6 linked regions of the Homo sapiens genome follow. The protein of the gene in region 1 interacts with the protein of each later gene in a pairwise test. Each region holds a gene or a part of one and is shown in the gene's direction. Other genes may lie near its edges.

What was found.
Region 2: the proteins of DNTTIP1 (region 1) and HMBOX1 interact in binary tests that used the Homo sapiens proteins (3 or more experiments, as listed by UniProt).
Region 3: the proteins of DNTTIP1 (region 1) and E2F6 interact in a two-hybrid assay, tested with the Homo sapiens proteins (one study listed by BioGRID).
Region 4: the proteins of DNTTIP1 (region 1) and TOR1A interact in binary tests that used the Homo sapiens proteins (3 or more experiments, as listed by UniProt).
Region 5: the proteins of DNTTIP1 (region 1) and TRIM63 interact in a two-hybrid assay, tested with the Homo sapiens proteins (one large-scale study listed by BioGRID).
Region 6: the proteins of DNTTIP1 (region 1) and ANP32B interact in binary tests that used the Homo sapiens proteins (3 or more experiments, as listed by UniProt).

The regions. Positions count from the first base shown.
Region 1 is NC_000020.11:45,801,954-45,805,453, forward strand, and holds part of DNTTIP1 (deoxynucleotidyltransferase terminal-interacting protein 1), read left to right. Parts: intron 1-45; coding exon 46-104; intron 105-1,379; coding exon 1,380-1,425; intron 1,426-3,192; coding exon 3,193-3,251; intron 3,252-3,352; coding exon 3,353-3,413; intron 3,414-3,500. UniProt on the Homo sapiens protein: Increases DNTT terminal deoxynucleotidyltransferase activity (in vitro). Also acts as a transcriptional regulator, binding to the consensus sequence 5'-GNTGCATG-3' following an AT-tract.
Region 2 is NC_000008.11:28,896,895-28,900,394, forward strand, and holds part of HMBOX1 (homeobox-containing protein 1), read left to right. Parts: intron 1-3,500. UniProt on the Homo sapiens protein: Binds directly to 5'-TTAGGG-3' repeats in telomeric DNA. Associates with the telomerase complex at sites of active telomere processing and positively regulates telomere elongation.
Region 3 is NC_000002.12:11,456,162-11,459,661, reverse strand, and holds part of E2F6 (transcription factor E2F6), read left to right. Parts: intron 1-1,309; exon of another isoform or gene 1,310-1,369; coding exon of another isoform or gene 1,370-1,381; intron 1,382-2,428; coding exon 2,429-2,483; intron 2,484-3,500. UniProt on the Homo sapiens protein: Inhibitor of E2F-dependent transcription. Binds DNA cooperatively with DP proteins through the E2 recognition site, 5'-TTTC[CG]CGC-3'. Has a preference for the 5'-TTTCCCGC-3' E2F recognition site.
Region 4 is NC_000009.12:129,821,337-129,825,384, reverse strand, and holds the start of TOR1A (torsin-1A precursor), read left to right. Parts: upstream 1-1,248; 5' UTR 1,249-1,299; coding exon 1,300-1,477; intron 1,478-2,538; coding exon 2,539-2,804; intron 2,805-4,048. UniProt on the Homo sapiens protein: Protein with chaperone functions important for the control of protein folding, processing, stability and localization as well as for the reduction of misfolded protein aggregates.
Region 5 is NC_000001.11:26,050,801-26,054,215, reverse strand, and holds the end of TRIM63 (E3 ubiquitin-protein ligase TRIM63), read left to right. Parts: intron 1-251; coding exon 252-323; intron 324-2,332; coding exon 2,333-2,343; 3' UTR 2,344-2,915; downstream 2,916-3,415. UniProt on the Homo sapiens protein: E3 ubiquitin ligase. Mediates the ubiquitination and subsequent proteasomal degradation of CKM, GMEB1 and HIBADH.
Region 6 is NC_000009.12:98,000,341-98,003,840, forward strand, and holds part of ANP32B (acidic leucine-rich nuclear phosphoprotein 32 family member B), read left to right. Parts: intron 1-3,500. UniProt on the Homo sapiens protein: Multifunctional protein that is involved in the regulation of many processes including cell proliferation, apoptosis, cell cycle progression or transcription.

The DNA.
Region 1 (3,500 bases):
GAGTAACCACAGGGTCAGACCTCTGACAGCTGTTTTTTGTGGCAGAGGAAAGGACGGCCTCCTGGACACATCCTGTCAAGCGACCGGGCAGCCGCCGGCATGGTGTGAGTAGGGACCAACAGTGTGGTGAGAGCATAGGGGAGCAGACGGAGAGAGGGGCCCTGAAGGAAAAGAGTCCAGGGTTCTGTGCCTGTCAAAATCAGATCCATCAGCTTAAGTCATCGTGGAGGGGGGTTATCCTGGTTGGAGGGGTGAGGAAGGAGGGTAGTGAGGAGGAAATTGTTTTACCCCCTGAACGGTTTGGCCCAGCTTGATGAAAGATTAAACTCCAGAGGTTTGTCATTGTTAGTATATATTGGATGCTTATGACTGGTCTAAATACGTTACATACTTTACCTTTTAATCTTTATAGCCACCCTGTAAAGAAGATATCATTAATTTTTCAGATAACAGACTCAGAGAATTACTTGCCTAATGTCATATCGTTAACATTGCCTCCAAGACGGTCATTTTCAAATATATATTTTTTTAAGACTTAATTTTTTTAGAGCAGTTTTAGGTTCACAGCAAAATTGAGAGGAAGGTACAGACATATCCCGTATACTCCCTGACCCTACACATGCACAGCCTCCCCCATTATCGACATCAGGCACCAGAGTGGTACATTTGTTACATTTGATGAGCCTACTTTGACTCGTCTTGATCCTCAGAGTGCATAGTTTCCATGAGGGTTCACTCTTGGTATTGTACATGAACTTAGACAAATGCATAGTGACAGGCATCCACCATTCTAGTATCACACTGAGTGCTTTCAGTGCCCTAAAAATCCTCTGTGTTCTGCCTGTTCATCCTTCCTTCCCCCTCAACCAACCCCCAACCCCACTTTTTAAAAAAAATTCTGAAGCAGCAGAATCTTTTTCAAACAAAACTTTACATGGGAGCCCAGTATTTAAATCAAATAAAGCCACACTGGTCTGGTTCAGGGGCGTGGGGTTAGTTTGGAACAGCTGGCTTAGTAGATGGGCTAGTATTAACTGTCATACCTTAGATGTGTCTCCTACACGAAGCAGTTTTATTCCTCACAAACACAAGATAGGTAGGGCAGTTGCTGTTTTTGTCTCTTTTGACAGATGAGAAAACTGCCACTCAGAGGTTCTTGGAGTTGCTCATGCCACTATGTAAGAGCAGAGCTAGTGCTAGAATGGCTTCTAGTCCAGTGCTTTTTTTCCCTTTGTTCCTCCTCTTATGTGTCACCACGAAGGAGGATGTCCAGGGCTAAAGTGAGAGTGTGTGAGGAACTCCTACCACCACCAGCAAGCTGGCATTTAGTCCTAGGTCTCACCTTGGAGAATTCACCTTTATTCTTTCCTTCCAAGCAGATGGAAACCAAAATCCTGTGAACCAATTCGCCGGGAAGGCCCCAAGGTATGATTATGTGAGCATGGCAGAGATCACGATCCCAGGAGATAGTCCCACTATCTCTAGGACCCACCATGAGGGAAAGGGGCAGGGGGCGAAGGGTGCATGCACACCATTCCAGAGCCATCTGCCCCTCTCCACCTCCAGCCACACTGGCCTCAGAGAGGATCCTGTGTAGGAATTGGAGTTAGAGGCAAAACAAAGAGAGGGCTTGAGTCTTTGCTGAAGCCTTCTCCTTATAGGAGTTAGTGGTCACTAATACTGATTCAATACTTAGTATGTAACGGGCAGTGTCCTAAATCTTTTGTGTAGACCATCTCATTTAATCTTTATAACAAACTTATGAGATCAATTCTGTGAACCATTCTATAAATGAGGCGTTTCCTTTTCTGCCAGCTTCCCTGTGGGCATAAATTATTTTATTCAGTTGTCTTATACACTTAATGCACTTAAGACTTGCCCAAAGTCACATAACTCGTAAGTGATCGAGCTGAGTCTCAAACCCAAGACCCGCTGACACCAGAGTCTGTGCTCTCAACCATTAGCCTCTGTTGCCTCCCTCTCTCTCCTGAGTTCTTCCTCAGCAGTGACTTATATAAATGGTTGTTCCCCAGAATTCTCTCCTTGGCCCACTTCTCCATCTAAAGTAACTCTCTGGATAATCTAAAACATATACTCTTATGGTTTCAGGGACCACCATGTTCTAAAACTCCCATACCTCTTTGTCCATCCCATGCCTCTTTCTACTTTAAAACTTGTTTATCCTACTATCTGCTTGACCACTCTGCTGGAAGTTTCATAGGCATTTCAGACTCAGCATATCCAAACATGAAATTAGAATCTTTCCTCACAGCCCTTCTTTACATTCGTTATCTTAATCATCTTTGCCTCCTCCTCCTCTTCCTTACCTCCCTACACCCAGTCGAGTCCTGGACAATTCTTCCTCTTAAATATATTGCAGTTCCTATTTCCTTCTGTTCATCCTTACTGCTGCCCTAGCTCAGGCCCTTAGCAGCTTTCCAACTGCTTTATCACAGCGGCCTCTAAACTGCTCTCCCTGCCTGTAGTCTTGCCCCTTCAAATCCATTATCCACATTGCTAGAAGACTAAGCTATCTTTAAAGGAAATCTGACTCTCACTCCCTGTTTAGAGGCCTTCAGCGATTCCCCATTGCCTACAGAAGAAATAAAATGCAGTCCCCTGAACATAACCTCCTAAGACCTCCAACTCCTCTGTGTTTCTCTCTCCAGCCCCATCAGCTGCCACTCCCTAATTTGTACTCTCTCTGTTAGCAGCACAGAATTACTAGTAGTTTCTCCAGCAGGCCAAGCTGCCTCTCACCTGTCTTTGCTCATGCTGCCCCCTGTCTGGAATGCCCTTGTTCCTGACCCCCTTTACCCCAACTTGTGCTCACCCTTTCAGAATTAACTTGGGAAATGCCTCTCTAAGGAAGCCTTCCTGGCTGGACCCTCCCCTCGGCAGCCCTCAGACCCTGCACTCACTTGTGTCCTTGCCTCATCGCACAATGGTGTAATTATCTGTACATATGTTGGTGGCATCCTAGAAAACAGAGACTGTATCTTATTCATCTCTTTATCCCCAGTATCTAGCACAGACAGGGCCTAGCATATTGTGAGTACTCAGTGTCTTGGGTCAACTGTTGATTAAATAATAGACAAGGGGAAGGGTTAGAAAAGGGTAGGGGGAGGAGTGTTTCTGTCCTACCCATCAGATTAAACTTCACCCTCACGAGCTTCTCTATTTTTTGCACAGTGGGACCCAGCTCGCCTGAATGAATCTACCACCTTTGTGTTGGGATCTCGAGCCAACAAGTAAGTTTAAGAGCTTTGGCACTGATTGAGGAAACAGCTCAGGAGTTCACTAGTAGGACTACACTTTCTGGAATCTTGACCACTTGGCTTTTACTTTTCAGAGCCCTGGGGATGGGGGGCACCAGAGGAAGAATCTACATCAAGCACCCACACCTCTTTAAGGTAGGTGACTGCTGGGAGGAAAGCAGGCCATTGCATTGGGAGTAGACTGGGAACTCCACTCAGCACAGAGAAGCTTAGAACAAACAC
Region 2 (3,500 bases), on another chromosome or scaffold:
TTAAAAGTTTATTTTTTAGATGAACCTGACATTGCAAACATACCAATTTTTTTTTTTGTTATGAGAATCTGAATATTGGCTAGGTTTTTTTTTTTTTTCTTTTTTTTGAGATGGAGTTTCGCTCTTGTTACCCAGGCTGGAGTACAATGGCGCGATGTCATCTCACCGCAACTTCTGCCACCCAGGTTCAAGTGATTCTCCTGCCTCAGCCTTCCTGAGTAGCTGGGATTATGGGCATGCGCCACCATGCCCGGCTAATTTTGTAGTTTTAATAGAGACGGGGTTTCTCCATGTTGGTCATGCTGGTCTCGAATCCCCCCTCAGGTGATCCACCCGCCTTGGCCTCCCAAAGTGCTGGGATTACAGGCGTAAGCCACTGGTCGGCTAGTTTTTTTTTTTTAAATGAGGAATTATAATATTAGGACCCATTAAAATTTTCTGGTAAAAGTTAACGATAACATTGAAATTGTCCACAAATAAAATGTGTAAGATTTAAATGAGGCTGGGCGTGGTGGCTCATGCCGGTAATCCCGGCACTTTGGGAGGCCAAGGCAGATGGATCATGAGGTCAGGAGTTCAAGACCAGCCTGACCAACATGGTGAAACTTTGCCTCTACTAAAAATACAAAAATATAGCCGGGCGTGGTGGCACACACCTGTACTCCCAGCTACTCAGGAGGCTGAGGCAGGAGAATCACTTGAACCTGGGAGGCGGAGGTTGCAGTGAGCCAAGGTGGCGCCACTGCACACCAGATTGGGCAACAGAGCGAGACTCTATCTCAAACAAACAAACAAAAAAAGATTTAAATTTTAAATAAATTCAAGGCTTACATGGTATGTTTGTTGCTAGAGAGGATATGTTAGAATCTGTGTTAGATAACCAAAATTACAGCTATTTTGACATTAGTTTGGTTTTGACAGTGTTAATGCAAACTTGTCAGATTAATTGATTGTCAGCATATGTCATAGTTTTATTTTGTACTTGTTGCAAGGGAACTAGCTTTAAAGGAAGTTAGTTCAAAGATATTTTCAGAAAAAGGATCTTTACAGAATAAAAGGGGAGGTTATGGTTACTATTTTTGTTAGGTACAAGTTAAAGGATAGTTACAGGGTTGGTTATACTTTGCTGCCCCTTAATCAGCCATATGATTATAAAGCCTGTCTTAAAAGATGAGGCTGTTAATCCAATATACTATCGATTATTACAGACAACAACGGAAGTCTGCTTTAAACAGGCTAACAAAATATTTTCAAATGTATTAACAAATAAAGGTAGATCACCTGATTTTTGTCTTCTCTGGGTTTGAGACAATTTTTCATTTGTCAATACTGTGATAATTTCTATTAAAAAAAGACAAAGTTTAATTTGTTTCATTAGCAGGAATATGACAAATATTGATGGTACTTCCTGATAAATAAGATTCATATTTACAAAGCTTTTTGGCTACCTGTGATTTCAGTTTTTTCCTGGTAGAATTATTTTTTCCTCCTTGGATTTATGTTTCTAGCTTTCTATTTGTCTTGGTGTACGTACTAAAAAATAATGCTTGAATTAGGGATCATTTGGCTTCAAGGACAGGCGTTGTAGGGATTCAGCTGTTTTGGGTTGAAGAAGAGTGACTAGACCTTGTGTGAATGGGAGAAACGTTAGGAATCTGAGAAGCTAGTCTCTCAAGCTCTCGTTCTGGTGATAAATGGTTTCTTGTCTCAGCATCTCCTTCCATGTCTGCTTCATCTCCCTTTCTCACTTCTCCCTTCCAGTTCTGTTTGTATTGCCCTGGTTTTTCATAGTCTCTGCTTCTCTGACTGGTAAGTGGATTTGATTTGCCATGGTGTTGACTTGAACTGTTCTTTCAACTAGAGTTTACCTGTTGATGGTGACAGTGTGTTTCTTTTAGTTCAGTTGGCAAGAGAGAAATCTGAATGCATTGCATGACCACCATGACTTAAATGTCTATCCTTATCCCGTGACCTTGGTGGGAGGTAGCGTGGAAAGCACCTTTTATATGAGGCTTAAGCTTTTAGATGCTTTTTATGAGGAGGGTTCTCTTGTTGGTGTTGAACAAGGCACTCAGTTAAACATGTCAAGTCTAGCAGTGCGTGATGAGGTACTTTGTGGGATACAAAGATAGGTTGGATTTAATCCTTTTCTGCAAGGATCAGTTTGCTGGAAATAGCAAAAGACTCCTATAATTTAAGATTTGCTTTTTATTCTAGTCACCTCAGGCAAACCAGAAAGATGACAAAGTAGGACTATAAGAACTAGCTAGGATTAAGGAAGGAGAATGAGAGGTAGCCCTGGATACATGAACGTACTATCTCTACAGTTTGGATCACTAACCTACTAAGCATGAAAGTATCTAGAAGCCATTGTATCAGGATCCTCATTGCTGCTATCAAAGACTATCCCTTATTGAATAAAGAAGCTCTTATTCATATCAAGTAGACATTCTTTTGTCCCATCATTAAGATCTAGAGACATCTTAGGAGAACTCATTTCATCACTACTCTAGGAACTGGAACATTCTCATAGGCACCCTCTATCTATATAGTGACAACTGTTCTCTTAGCAAATGTCATTCATCCCTGACAAGAAAATTTGTGCCTTCTTTCTTTAGAGACAATAAGCAGGAATTCAAATAGTTGAGTCTGTAGTAGTGAGCATCTTGTTCTCTGCAGATCTGGCAACAAAAGAATTGACATACTGGGTCAATCCAATGTCCAGTCAACACCATAGGTGATATTTAACAAAAGCTCCATGATTTCAGGGAAAGGAACTGGAGCTTTTTATTCCTATGTCAGTATTGGAGTTTATATGGACTTCAGAGCTAAAATTTCCATATCCAAGTCTTTATTATATTACCAAACCAGGGCCAAGATTTTTAGAAATAAGTACAAGTCAAGGATAGGCAACTAAGGAACCTAGAAGATTGGAGTCAGATTACAAAGCCACAGGAGATAAATAGTTGGGGAGTCACAGAGTTCTAAGCACTTAGGCTACAACAGAAGGAAACAGTGATCTCAACTTTTGTGTTGAAGAATTGCCTGGAAAAAGTATTAAAATTTTAGTTTCTGGCTGGGCGCAGTGGCTCACACCTGTAATCCCAGCACTTTGGGAGGCTGAGGTGGGCGGATCATGAGATCAGGAGTTCAAGACCAGCCTGGCCAACATGGTGAAACCCTGTTTCTATTAAAAATACTAAAACATTAGCTGGGCATCATGGCGCGCCTGTAATCCCAGCTACTCGGGAGGCTAAGGCAGGAGAATTGCTTGAACTGGGAACTGGGAGGCAGAGGTTGCAGTGAGCTGAGATTGCGCCACTGCACTCCAGCCTGGGCTACAGAGCAAGATTCCGTCTCAAAAAAAAAAAAAAAAAATATATATATATATATATATTTTGTTTCCTGAGTTCTACCCCCAGATTCCTAAAATCTGAGATGGGCCCAGGAATATATATCCTTCATAAGTATATCAGGTAATTCTAATTGGTATAGTCCTC
Region 3 (3,500 bases), on another chromosome or scaffold:
TCTCCTCCCCCCACCCCGCCTCCCAAAGTCCTGGGATTACAGGCATGAGCCACCGCGCCTGGACTTATGTTTCTATCTATATGTCTGTATATGATGTCTGCCACTGAGGGGCAATGGTACTGTTGTGATTCCTCCAAGATAGAGTGTTTTTGTATTTGAAGAGGAAAAAAAAACAAATGAATGCTCTTGGAGACTGTTTTCCCACATACATCAGTATAGCCAATATGTAATGGAACTGCATTGATAGCAAAGAGTGGGGAAAACAAAGCCATCTTTTTTCATATTATGCCTAACTGAGGTGTTATTTCTGTACCAACCTGTGATCCACTGTCTAGATGAGATGGGTAGGGAGGTGTGTAGCAGAGAAGACACCCTAGAATGCATAGCTAGCGAGGCAGCCTCTTTGGGAGCCAGTAAGTAGAGTGTGTAAGTCCTGGGCCTGCTACTCTGAATTAAGAACGGGAACCTCTGCAGCAAGGCCCCTCTGAGCTTATATATAAGGATTTAGGATGTTTGTTTATGTGTGTTTCAAATCAATGTGATAAGGATGGATTTTTTTTTTTTCCATTCAAGAATCTTGCTACCGTAGCTGGCCCGTCTCATACTATTAGCAGAGGGGTTAAATGTAAAAATAGCAATGGCAGTTGGTCACACTTGTCTAATGTCTGACTTTGATAGGACTGCTTCAGAGTTTCACTGTTGGATACCATGTTTGCAAGTCACCATTGTCAGCACTGTTTGAGAGAGCTGGCCAGACCTAGTCCCTACCCCCAAGGCCAGCATTCCCAGCTCCAGTGTTGCATGCCCTAGCAGGTCTACGTGTTCAATTCTAACAACTAAATTAATTTTACAGTGGGATTCTGTCTCAATGGGAGTATTCCATATTGGGGTGATTTGTTAATAGATGCTATCATCTTGTCATAGATGATAAGGAAATCATTGTGCCGAGGATATTGTTAACACCAGTATAAACAAAGAGCTTCTTAACTGCTCACCTTGCCTTCAGGCTTCCTCATTTCCCAGTCCTTTTGCCATATTGCTGCCATACTTATATTTCTAAACCATTTACTTAATTATGTCCTAGTCTGGTTCAGAAACCTTTGGTGATTCTCTACTGGTTATGACATAAAGTCCAAACTCTTTAGCATTAGTTTTATGTGGTGCCAGCATGCCCTCCCAGCTTCAAAGTCAAGTCACTTACACACTGGCCACTTCAGTGGGTTCCCAGAAACATGCCATGCCATATACATCTTCACACCTTTGTTCATTTCCGGTACCACAATCCTGTCTTTTTTCTTCTCTCCCCACAGTTGTTTATTCAGGCAAATCTGGCTTGCTGGGCTAGGCTCAGCTGAGGGCTGCCTTCGCCATGAATCCTTCTGTGAGTTCCCTGTCTGGGTGTATCCCTAGTACTGCTGTTGATTCTCTTCTTAGAGTACCTATGAATTCACTTGCCCCAGTTTTGCTTTATGGCCAGTTTTTTCTTAGATAAGAGCTAAACCTGATGACAGCCTGTCTGGAGGCACATTAACATTGATGTTACTAGGAGTTTCTGTTCATAGGCTTTCATTTTAAGGTTTGGTTTCATTTTATTTATTTTTTACAGAAAAACAGTTTCTAAATGTTACTACCAGTTTTATGCAAACTTTCAGAGCCTCTAAATAGCTGGTAAAATGGTGAGCATTGATAATGGAGCTTCTACTAATTTCCTGGTTGTTTCAGGAATTTAAAAGAAACTTTTTATCTAACGCAAAAGTTTCTAGTTACCCACAGCATGCATTGTTTTCCATTGTTAGAAATGCTGCTGTTTTTACATTAATTATAATGGGAATGCATAGCTGCCTATGAAAGCTTGTGAGCAAATTTTGGGGAACCACGTGTACTTAATAATAGCAAGGAGTGAGCATGTGTTGGTTGAGATAGATCTTCTATCTCTACTAAGCTTTCCCAAGTCAGGGACAGTGTTGTAATGATCGTACCTGATGTATTCAGTATATTTTGTGTGTGTGTGCATGTTTTTTTGTTTTGTTTTGTTTTTTGAGACGGAGTCTTGCTGTGTTGCCCAGGCTGGAGTGCAGTGGCATGATCTTGGCTCACTGCAACCTCCACCTCCTAGATTCAAGCGATTCTCTTGCCACAGCCTCCCAAGTAGCTGGGACTACAGGTGCCTGCCACCACGCCCGGCTAATTTTTGTATTTTTAGTCGAGATGGGGTTTCACCATGTTGGCCAGGCTGGTCTCGAACTCCTCACCTCAGTGATGCACCTGCCTCGGCCTCCCAAAGTGCTGGGATTACAGGCGTGAGCCTCTGCCCAGCCAGTAATTATCATATTCATATTCCCAGACCTTTATACTATTGAGTAAAATGCTATTTGTTTGCATTGTTGTTTTAAAATCACTAAGTTAAATTTTTTATCTTTTTTTTCAGCCATCAAAAATAAGGATTAATTTAGAAGATAATGTACAATATGTGTCCATGAGAAGTAAGTTGATTCCTGAATAGGTTTTAGGTTTTGTTAGTTTGAACTTCTTATGATTAAAATGATTTGTTTAAGTGTATGAGTTGATGAGAAACTGAAATACAATTTGTTATGTGTACACTGAAATGTAAAGTTGCAAGTTTTAGTAACAACTCCTGAGGTTATGGGTTGAATCATGTGCACAAATGCCAGTTTATTCTCCATAGAACAGTCTGTATTTAAGGCTATTTTCTCAGAATTCCTCCTGGGAGAGAAATGTACTCTTTCCTTCTTGTCCCTTATCTTAGGTTAATGTTTAGGGTATCTGTTAGAGGCGATAGGATGTAAATGGCTCTAGTTCCCTCTTCTGGAAGTTTCCATGATAGACCGCCCCACCTCAGCTTCCTAATCTCAGTGGATACATAGTGCATCGATAAGTCAGTGTGAATCTTAGAAATACTCACCCTTAGTTTTGCCTCAGTGCCTGCCCCAGTCTCACCCATAGTTGGTCACTGAGTTTGGTCAGCTTCACCTTTGATGTGTTTCTTGCATCTGTCCCATACCACCAATTTATAATAATATCTAACATTTATTGAGCTCATACAGTGCCTGGCACTGCATTAAGCTCTCTGCATGGATTGTCACAATGACCTTTCAAAATATAGGTATGGATTAGAATTCTTACTTTATAAAGGCCCAGAGAGGCTGAGGTGAGTTGCTCAGAGTCAGGGTTGAATCTCTTACCTCTCTGACGCAAGAGCCCAGAGTCTTTACCACAACGTTGAATTGCTTCTTCTCGTTCAGGGTCTAACTTCCTCTGTAGCTGAAGTTGCTGGGTCTCCTTCTTAGAAGGCAGTCAGCTTCCAGGCTTTCCAACCTGGATGCTGGAAAAATCCAGGGGGATTTGTCTAATACAGAAATTGGATTATGATATCATTCAACCTAAGTTCTTCAGTGACGCTCTTTTACATGTAGAGAAAACCCTGATTCCTTGTATATTTGATTTTAAGTGTTTGCATTAAATTCATAAGCCACTTCATA
Region 4 (4,048 bases), on another chromosome or scaffold:
TAACGTTGAACAGTAAGAACCCTTCCTTGGTAGGATGTGATGAGCATAGCACTTTACCTCTGTGATCTTCCTTCCAAAACGCCATAACGCTTGTCTAATCCTGAGAAAAACATCAAATCCCAATAGAGGGCCAGCCCACCAAAGATTTGGCCAGTACTCCTCAAAACTATCAAGGTCATCAAAAATAAAAAGCTGAGGCCAGGCGCGGTGGCTCACGCCTGTAATCCCAGCACTTTGGGAGGCTGAGACGGGCAGATCATGAGGTCAGATCAAGACCATCCTGGCCAACATGGTGAAACCCCGTCTCTACCAAAAATACAAAAATTAGCCGGGCATGGTGGTGTGTGCCTGTAATCCCAGCTGCTCAGGAGGCTGAGACAGGAGAATCGCTTGAACCTGGGAGGCAGAGGTTGCAGTGAGCTGAGATCATGCCACTGCACTCCAGCTAAAATAAAAATAAAAGGCTGAGACACTGTCATTAACAGTAGTCTAAGACATGACAACGAAATATAATGTGGTATCCTGAATGGAAACCTGCAGCAGAAAAAGGCATTAAGTAAAAGGAAGGAAATCTGAATAAACTACACTTTAGTTAATATGACAACAGTGCATCGTTAATTTTAACAAATGTAGCACACTAATAATGTAAGATTTTAGTAATAGGGGAAATTGCAGGGATGGGTGGCACATGGGAACTCTCTACTATCTTCTCAATTTTTCTGTAAATCTGTTCTAAAAAATAACGTCCGTTATTATTATTATTATTATTATTATTATTTGCGGGGAGGGGACACAGTCTTGCTCTGTCTCCCAGGCTGGAGTGCAGTGGTGAGATCTCGGCTCACTGCAATCTCCGCCTCCTGGGTTCAAGCGATTCTCATGTGTCAGCCTCCCCAGTAGCTAGGGCTACAGGTGCCTACCACCACACCCGGCTAATTTTATATTTTTAGTAGAGACGTGGTTTCACCATGTTGGTCAGGCTGGTCTCGAACTCCTGACCTCAGGTGATCCGCCCGCCTCAGCCTCCCAAAGGGCTGGGATTACAGGCAGGAGCCACCATGCCTGGCAAAAATAACGTCCATAAACAAAAACACGTGGCCAACAGGGGCGGAGCAGAACCGAGTTTCCGGAAGCAAAACAGGGCTTTGTACCGAACAAAGATGGCGGCCGCCGGCGTCGGGAGGAGGGCTGCCCTGAAGAAAGATGGCCTCCGCGAGAGGAGGAACCGGAAGCGTGGGTCTGGCGGCTGCACCGGTTCGCGGTCGGCGCGAGAACAAGCAGGGTGGCGCGGGTCCGGGCATGAAGCTGGGCCGGGCCGTGCTGGGCCTGCTGCTGCTGGCGCCGTCCGTGGTGCAGGCGGTGGAGCCCATCAGCCTGGGACTGGCCCTGGCCGGCGTCCTCACCGGCTACATCTACCCGCGTCTCTACTGCCTCTTCGCCGAGTGCTGCGGGCAGAAGCGGAGCCTTAGCCGGGAGGGTAGGCTGGGGCGGGGGCTGGAGGCTGGGGCTGGGGCTGGGGCTGGGCGATGGCACTAGGGCTGAACTAGGACCAGGGCATGGAGAATGGAGGATGGAGGCCGGGGGATGGCACCAGGGCCGGGCTAGGACTAGGGCTGGAGCGGGGCCTGGGGGCTGGGGCTGGGCGATGGCACTAGGGCCGGGTTGGGGCTGGGGCTGGGGCTGGGGGATGGAGCGGGGCCCGGGGGCTGGGGGTGGGGCTGGGGGATCGCACTAGGGCTGGGTTAAGACCAGGGCGGTTGGCTGGGGCTAGGGGATTGAGGATGGTGGATGGAGGCTGGGGGATGGCAGTAGGGCCGGGCTAGGACTGGGGCTGGAGCGGAGTTTGGGGGCTGGGGCTCAGGAGCGGGGGCTGGGGCTGGGGCTGGGGCTGGGGGATGGCACTAGGGCCAGGCCGGGGTAGGGGTCACATCCCAGGAGGGCCGGGCCTGGGCAGAGCTGAGTCCGCGGGGGCCGGACCCCGGAAGCCAAGCGGCCGGCCTGCAGGATGAGGCCTGGCTCCTCGGCCATGACCACAGACGTGCCAGACTTAAGTCGGAGACCTGAGGAGCCAGGCTGCAGGTTGGCCTACTTTGCGCTAAGCTGGGGGTGGACCAGTGGTAACCTCCCTCCGAAGTGGGTTCTGCCTCCTTTCTAGCCTAGCGGGAGACAGGAAGGATGGTGAGGACTCTTCCGCAGCCGACCAGGAGGGACCAAACTGTTTCCTTTCCCGGCTCTGCCTTGGGGTGGGAGGAGCAGCACAGGGGTTAGGGGTGCAAACTGGTGGCAGTGGCAGTGGCACCAAGGGGCTTTTCGGGAAGGAGTCGGGCCAGGGCTTTAGAATAGGCAGGACCAGCAAAGGGAGGGCTCCCTGGACCGCCGTCCCCTCTGGGCCAGGAGCTTACAGACCGCAGTACTTGAGGTTTCGCAAGGTGCTTGGAGGGCGTCTAGACGGCTTTGCTGGCTTTCTTATGGGCTGTAAATGTGGCTACATTTTGCCGCTGTTTCTTCCCCACTCCTGATTGGCTTTGTCTTTCCCAGCACTGCAGAAGGATCTGGACGACAACCTCTTTGGACAGCATCTTGCAAAGAAAATCATCTTAAATGCCGTGTTTGGTTTCATAAACAACCCAAAGCCCAAGAAACCTCTCACGCTCTCCCTGCACGGGTGGACAGGCACCGGCAAAAATTTCGTCAGCAAGATCATCGCAGAGAATATTTACGAGGGTGGTCTGAACAGTGACTATGTCCACCTGTTTGTGGCCACATTGCACTTTCCACATGCTTCAAACATCACCTTGTACAAGGCAAGGATGGAAGTTTGGAATCCCTTCCTGGATGTCATCGGGTTTGGGGTCTCTTTGTTGTGGGATGAGATTTGGGAGTTCTATGTTGAAATGAGTGAGCCCGGAAAACGGTTCATGTCTCAGTTCCCCTTGGAAAGGTGTAGAAGTTAAGAGTTTGAGATGCGTGGAGCAGTTAATACCATCAAAGCTTTGTGGTGGGTTCTGAAAATCGGTCCAGTGAGTATGTAGGGTCATGGGATTTTAGAGGTGGACATGATCAAATCCATCTTAGAGATCAACACATCTCACTCATTTTTTTATTTTTTTCTTTATTTTGAGACGGAGTTTCACTCTTCTTACCCGGGCTGGAGTGCAATGGCATGATCTCAGCTCACTGCAACCTCTGCCTCCCGGTTGAAGCAATTATCCTGCCTCAGCCTCCCGGGTAGCTGGGATTACAGGGTCCTGCCACCATGCCCAGCTAATTTTTGTATTTTTAGTAGAGATGGGGTTTTGCCAACTTGGCCAGGCTGGTCTCGAACTCCTGATCTCAGGTGATGTGCCTGCCTCAGCTTCCCGAAGTGCTGGGATTACAGGCGTGAGCCACCATGCCTGGCCACATCTCACTCATTTTGTGAAAGAGGAAACATGTAGAGTCCTAAGTTTGTTGAACCTACTGTTGTAAACTGCCTTTTTTTTTTTTTCTTTGAGTCAGGGTCTCACTCTGTTGTCCAGGCTGGAGTGCAGTGACGCCATCTCAGCTCACTACAGCCTCCACCTTCCCGGTTCAAGCGATTCTCCTGCCTCAGCCTCCCAAGTAGCTGTGACTACAGGCATGTGCCACCACAGCCGGCTAATTTTTGTATTTCTAGTAGAGATGGGGTTTCCTCACATTGGCCAGGCTGGTCTCGAACTCCTGACCTCAAGTGATCTGCCTACCTCAGCCTCCCAGAGTGCTAGGATTACAGGCGTGAGCCACCTTGCCCAGCCGCAAACAGCTTTTATGGTTGAACTCACTGATGAGCAGCTTGGGCTTTGGCAGCAGACACATCTGGATTTGAGTCCTAACACTCTCCCAGCTCCGTAGTCTTAGGAAAGTTGCCTGACCTGAGACTCAGATTCTGACTTACAAAGTGTTGCTTGTAACAATCCAGGGAGCTCTGTCTGTCAAGTGCATAACATGTACCTGGTGCATGTTACAAATAAATGTTAACTGTTGCCTTTTAGATCCTTGTAGCAGACCTGCAAGATGGGCAAAACAGTCA
Region 5 (3,415 bases), on another chromosome or scaffold:
TTGCTGGAGCAAGGAAGTGACTTGAGCCCAGCTCCCTGGGACGGAGTGCGGGGGATTGCAGGAGCAGGGCCTCTGTGCAGCGTGGGTCTGGCAAGCCCATCCCCTCCCAGACCACTGCCGCCGCTGTGTGGCCGTTTGACCCGACTGGGCACAGGAAGGGGTTTAGACCGTGCTCTCTCTTGCCTGGTTCCTCTTCAAGTAGCTCCTCAAGGAACCGGCCCCATCCTAACACAAATGTTTTTTTGTCACAGATGAGGAAGAGGAAGAATTCATTGAAGAAGAAGATCAGGAAGAGGAAGAGTCCACAGAAGGGAAGGAAGAAGGTAAGAAATTCATCTACCTCCATTCCTTCGTTCCTTCATTCATTCCACAACAATCTGAGGTGCCTACTGTATGTGAAGCACTGTGTTAGACATTGGCAATGACGCTCAGAACTGTCCCCAGCACGTGCTTTAACCCTACTGAGGGTAAAGTCCTGTTCTCTTTACCCTTAGAAAAGAAAAAAACCCCAAACTATTCATAATAAAATGCTCCCATTTCACATCTAAATGATCTTCTTAAATGGAAAGCAATATGGCACAGCAGAGGGAAAAGACAGGGGCTCATGAGCTAGGCTGGGCCCATTGAGGTGTTTTGTTTGGCCAGCACTGTGTTTAAATTAAAACAAACAAACAAACAAACAAAACTACTTGCTGGACAGGCACGGTGGCTCGAGCCTGTAATCCCAGCACTTGGGGAGGCCAAGGCCAGCCTGGCCAACATGGTGAAACCCTGTCTCTACTAAACATACAAAAAATTAGCTGAATTTGGTGGCAGGCGCCTGTAGTACCAGCTACTTAGGAGGCTGAGGCAGGAGAATCGCTTGAACCTGGGAGGTGGAGGTTGCAGTGAGCCGAGATCGTGCCACTGCACTCCAGCCTGGGTGACAAGAGTGAGACTCCATCTCAAAAAATAAATAAATAAATACTTGCTGGCTGGGTGTGGTGGTACGTGCCTATAATCCCAGCACTTTGGGAGGCTGAGGCGGGAGGATTGCTTGAGACCTGGAGTTTGGGACCAGCCTGGTCAACAGCAAGTCCTCGTCTTTACAAAAATAATTTAAAAATTAGCCAGGCATGGTGGTACATATCTGTAGTCCTAGCTACTCGGAAGGCTGAGGCTGGAGGATTGCTTGAGCCCAAGAGGTAGAGGCTGCAGTGAGCTATGATTGCGCCACTGCACTCTTGCCTTGGCAACAGAGGACACTACACTGTCTCTTAAAAGAAAAAATTAATTGCTAACATTTTTAAAATTAGGTTTTTTTTAAGGGTTAAGAAAAAGGAGATTTGAACTAAGAATCTGCATTTTCACCTTGTGAAAGTTTAGAAAAAGCAAACAATGCTGGACTTGAACTTCCTTGTAGTCCCAGAGTGCTGGCTCTGGGCAGTGGCTCTCCCCTTTAAAGGGGACACGCTGGCATGGTGGCTCACGCCTGTAATCCTAGCACTTTGGGAGGCCGAGGCAGGCGGATCACCTGAGGTCAGGAGTTTGACACCATCCTGGCCAACATGGTGAAACCCCGTCTCTACTAAAAATACAAAAATTAGCCAGGCGTGGTGACGGGCACCTGTAATCCCAGCTACTTGGGAGGCTGAGGCAGGAGAATCGCTAGAACCCCAGGGGGGCGGAGCTTGCAGTGAGCCGAGATCACGCCACTTCACTCCAGCCTGGGCAAAAGAGTGAAACTCCATCTCAAAAAAAAACAAAGAAAAGAAAAGAAAAATGGGACATGCCCTTGCCAGTTTGCCCAGCCCCACCACCACCAGTCCCGCTTGCTTCACTCATTCATGTTATCTGCTGGCTCCTTGTAGGCATCTGAGTTTGCCAGCCTGGCAGAGTTTGATTAGGAGCCTGGGTTCTGAATCACAGCAGCTCACAATTTCTCTGAGTCTTGGGCTACTCATCTGTGTATGGGGGTCTAACAGTACTGACGTCAAAAGGTTGTAGTGGGAAGTGAATAAGATAATCGTTTAGCACGGTGTCTGATGCATAGGAAGGACGTTTGCTAATTAGCACATGCTTGCAAATGTTATTTTTCAAACCACAGGTACTGAAACTAAATTCCAATCCAGTTGAAAACTATAGGTAGTCTTTTGGAGTTTTGTACTGATGTACAATCCATAATATTTGGGCAGCTAAATTCTATTTTGGTTTTAAAAGGAAGAGACCGGGAGGAATTGGAGTTTGATGTTTTATTCAAACTCCTGTTTGAATAAACAGTAGCTTGGTAAGCCTTGGATCCTCCTGAGTCCCTGTCTCACCCCTTGCCTCTGTATCTTTTTCTTCATTTCAGGACACCAGTAAGGAGCTGGATGAATGAGAGGCCCCCAGATGCAGAGAGACTGGAGAGGGTGGGGAGGGGCCCAGCGGCCTTGGTGACAGGCCCAGGGTGGGAGGGGTCGGGGCCCCTGGAGGGGCAATGGGGAGGTGATGTCTTCTCTCTGCTCAGAGAGCAGGGACTAGGGTAGGACCCTCACCGCTGCGTCCAGCAGACACTGAACCAGAATTGGAAACGTGCTTGAAACAATCACACAGGACACTTTTCTACATTGGTGCAAAATGGAATATTTTGTACATTTTTAAAATGTGATTTTTGTATATACTTGTATATGTATGCCAATTTGGTGCTTTTTGTAAAGGAACTTTTGTATAATAATGCCTGGTCGTTGGGTGACCTGCGATTGTCAGAAAGAGGGGAAGGAAGCCAGGTTGATACAGCTGCCCACTTCCTTTCCTGAGCAGGAGGATGGGGTAGCACTCACAGGGACGATGTGCTGTATTTCAGTGCCTATCCCAGACATACGGGGTGGTAACTGAGTTTGTGTTATATGTTGTTTTAATAAATGCACAATGCTCTCTTCCTGTTCTTCAAAGGAGCCGGGGTTTCATTCAGCCTTTTTTTCCTGGAGATGAGGGTTGAGTGTGAATGAACAGGACCCCTGGTAGGAGGCAATGGCAGGGCTAGGCTTAGGTCCCAGTAAAGGAGTTCTCGACACCACCATTTCCCAATGTGGACTCCATGGAAAGCCAGCCCTGAGCTGGTCCTTCAAGAACAGGTTCAATGTGTTGTTGCTCTGGTTCTCCAGAAAACAGAGCCTGAGGCAAAATTTAAATGCTTTAGTTGCAGGTTATAGGGACTTCCCCGTGCTCACTGAAGGCTCACTGAAGGCTCACTGAAAATCATCAAGAAGAGGCAGATTAAGGCTGGGCAGGTGCAGTGGTTCATGCCTGTAATCCCAGCACTTTGGGAGGACAAGGAGGGCAGATCATCTGAGGTCAGGAGTTCCAGACCAGCCCGACCAACATGGTGAAGCCCCGTCTCTACTAAAAATACAAAATTAGTTGGGCGTGGTGGCGCATGCCTGCAATCCTAGCT
Region 6 (3,500 bases), on another chromosome or scaffold:
TGTGATGCCTCACCAGTGCTCCATGCATTTTGCCCTTTTTCCTATTACAGGTATACCCAGATACTCGGGCTCTTACTAGTTTTATTCGTTTCCTTCAAACCAACCCCCATTTCCAGTATTTAAGCCGACATTTACTGACTTTTGCTGCATCCAAGGACATGAACATTTGCCCATTGTATCCTTAAGTAACCCAGAGAAGAGAGAATGACTGTCCTCTTTTTAGAGATGAGGAAGCTGAGTTTAGAGAATGTAGATAATTGCTCAGGAGAAATGGCAGAGTAGGGATTCAAATCTAAGTCTAGGCTGGGCACGGTGGTTCACGCCTGTAATCCCAGCACTTTGGGAGGCCGAGGCGGGCAGATCACTTGAGGTCAGGAGTTTGAGACCAGCCTGGCCAACGTGAAACCCCATCTCTACTAAAAATACAAAAAAGTACCCAGGCGTGGTGGCAGGCGCCTATAATTCCAGCTACTTGGGAGGCTGAGGCAGGAGAATCACTTGAACCCAGGAGGCGAAGGTTGCAGTGAGCTGAGATCATGCCTCTGCACTCCAGCCTGGGTGACAGAACAAGACTCCATCTCAAAAAAAAAAAAAAAAAAATTCGAAGTCTGCTGTGTTTTCCATAGCCCTTGGGACCTCTTCTTCTCTTTCCACCTGTAAATTTATTTCATGCCCAAATTTCCTTAAGCTGGGAATTCCAACAGGAGCACCAAATTTTAACTGCTGATGCTTTCCCGTTCACATGGGCTACACTAAGCCTTTGTTTATTGGTTAGTGACAGACATACTAATCCTAGGTTGTGAGCATAAGAAACCCTTCTCCCCGCCACCCCCCTTTTTTTTTCTGGTTTAATTTTTTTTTTTTTTTTTTAGACGGAGTCTCGCTCTGTCACCCAGGCTGGAGTGCAGTGGCGCCATCTCGGCTCATTGCAAGCTCCGCCTTCTGGGTTCACGCCATTCTCCTGCCTCAGCCTCCCAAGTAGCTGGGACTACAGGCACCTGCCACCATGCCTGGCTAAGTTTTTTGTATTTTTAGTAGAGATGGGGTTTCACTGTGTTTGCCAGGATGGTCTCGATCTCCTGAGCTCGTGATCCGCCTGCCTCAGCCTCCCAAAGCGCTGGGATTACAGGCGTGAGCCACCATGCCTGGCCTTCTCTTTTAATTTTTAAAGAACAGAGTAGCAGGCAGTACCTTTTCACTGTTGGCCAGTTGATGACTGGCCATTACCTAGTTCTCGTGGCAGCCTGAATCCTCTGATTATCAGAAGCCTTTTTCAGTGTTGTAGCACACAGCAATGGAGCAGAAGCAAATACTGTGTGGGAGTTGTTTGCTTGAGTTTTTTCCTGATCTGGTCAGTAATGTATGAGAGGACCCTCTGGTGGCTGTGAAAGTCTCAGTCCCCCAGGATAGTGAAGGATAAAAAGTAATCTTCGTTGTGTTCACCATTTTTAGAGGATCTGCTATACCCATACATTTACTGGGTGCTTTATGCATGTTTTATTAGTAATTGTAAAAAAAAAAACCTTCGATACAAAGTGGATAGAAATAGCATGGCCCTTGTTTTATATTGAGGAAGCTAAGGCTTGGGTGAGGCTGAATCCCTTGTCCAGAGTCACACACCCTGTGGCAGAGCCACAGGGCTACACACCAGAGCTATTTCGAAAAGCCTGGGGTCCCGCCATTCTGCTATACTTGGCACTCAGATTCCTGGCGGTGCTAGGTTGGTCTCCTGAAGTTCTAACTTGGAATTAAGTAAATCTGTAGGAGAAGGTGAAGGGGGGAAGAGTTGGGTCCATTTTGACTTCTGGCAGTATTCTTCAGTGGGGAAAAACACCATCCTCATCCTCATTAACCACATACATTTTGAACACCGTCTACTTTGAGCCCAGTTCTTATAGTCAATGCAATGATTGTGAATGCCTCTGCTTGCTACAGGGACATTAATCGAGAGACAAAGAAGGCATCAATTCAAACTTCCTTGGACACCTTTTTTAAGAGACCTGGGCCATCCAAACCATCCCCCAAAGCCCTTCTAAATTCTAAGAAGGCAAGCAAAATTATTGTTAATAAAATGTTTAATGTTTATTATGGCTAGCCTATTAGCTTACATCAAATTTCTGGTATGGTAGAGTTGTAATTTTTTTTAATCAGTATTTACACATTACATTGGGATCCTGAATAATCTGTGTGTAGTGTATTTTGTGCCTATTGGGCCTTAAAGCACAATTTTACTACTTTCAGCAGTTCCAGAGTACTACAGTTATTTGGGATTTTTGTTGTTTTCTTGCTTTCATTTCATTTTTCAAACTACTGATTGGCATGTCCAAATTGTTTGAGAAGGGGTGCTTTGCCAGGAAGTAGCCAAAAATCTCACATAATTGTACAGTTTCAGAAACAGGAGAGCCTTGGAGGCCCTGTGTACTGGAAGAGTCAATGAAACTAGATAGAGAAAGGGCTTTTGGTATTAAAAAGCATTAGATAAATATCAGAGGTTGTATGTGTTTTTGTGCACCTATTTCTAGGAAATAATTCTGAAATATAAATGGCTCATTCCTTTAAGTGGAGAATTTTTAGAGTGAACCTTTTTGGAAAAGCTGCCTAAAGCTGACTCTAGCTGGCATCGAGTCAGCCTTTGTGAAGAGAAAGCCAGTATGCTAGCTAGCCATCTGGGGTGGCATTGCAGCATTTTTTTCCTCTTTGGCAAGAAGTCATACCTGGGCTTCTGGAAGTCAGGGCCTGACTGGAAGGGAAGCTAATCTGAAAATTACATGATACAAAAGCAGCTCTATGACCAGAAGGGCTGGGGACAGCTTTCTTAAAACGTCAAGGAACTGACTATATAAGCACATTGTTTGATCCACAGACTCTTGGATCATTGTACAATTTGTGTTTTGAGGGGTGCAACGTTTTCCTGTTGCTGTAACCCTGCTGTGTGTTCCCTGCATGAATAAAACAAGTGTGGGAGCCTCTTTCTTCATCAAGAAGATGAAGTTCTTCATGTGCAGGGGTCAGTAGCCCTTTTCTCTAAGGGCCAAATAGTAGGTTCATTTGGCTTTGTAGCCTGTTTATATAGTCTCTGTCACAACTAGTCTGCTTGGCCATTTTAGTACATAAGGAGCCATACATAAATAAATGAGTGTGACTGTGTTCCAATGGAGCTTATTTTACAAAAACAAGTGGTGGGCCAGAATTGGCCACTGGACCACCGGTTCCCAACCCCTGCTCTAGAGCCTTGAGGCAGATTTTCACACCATTTTATATCTCCTCAGAACTACATAGATACCTTGAGTTCTGAAAATAAGGTTTTGTTTTGTCTGCATTTCTTCTCAGGTCCTTGTGAGTGTTGTAACAGCTTTCCTAATAAAGCAGCAAAACCTGTTAAGCATCAACATTTATTTTTTTAGAAATTATTTTATGTGGAGGTCCTCTTAAAGTTTGTTTGGGTGTTTTTAGTACTATCTTCTTAGAGAATACCGAAGTTTTTCTCTTGATTCAGAACC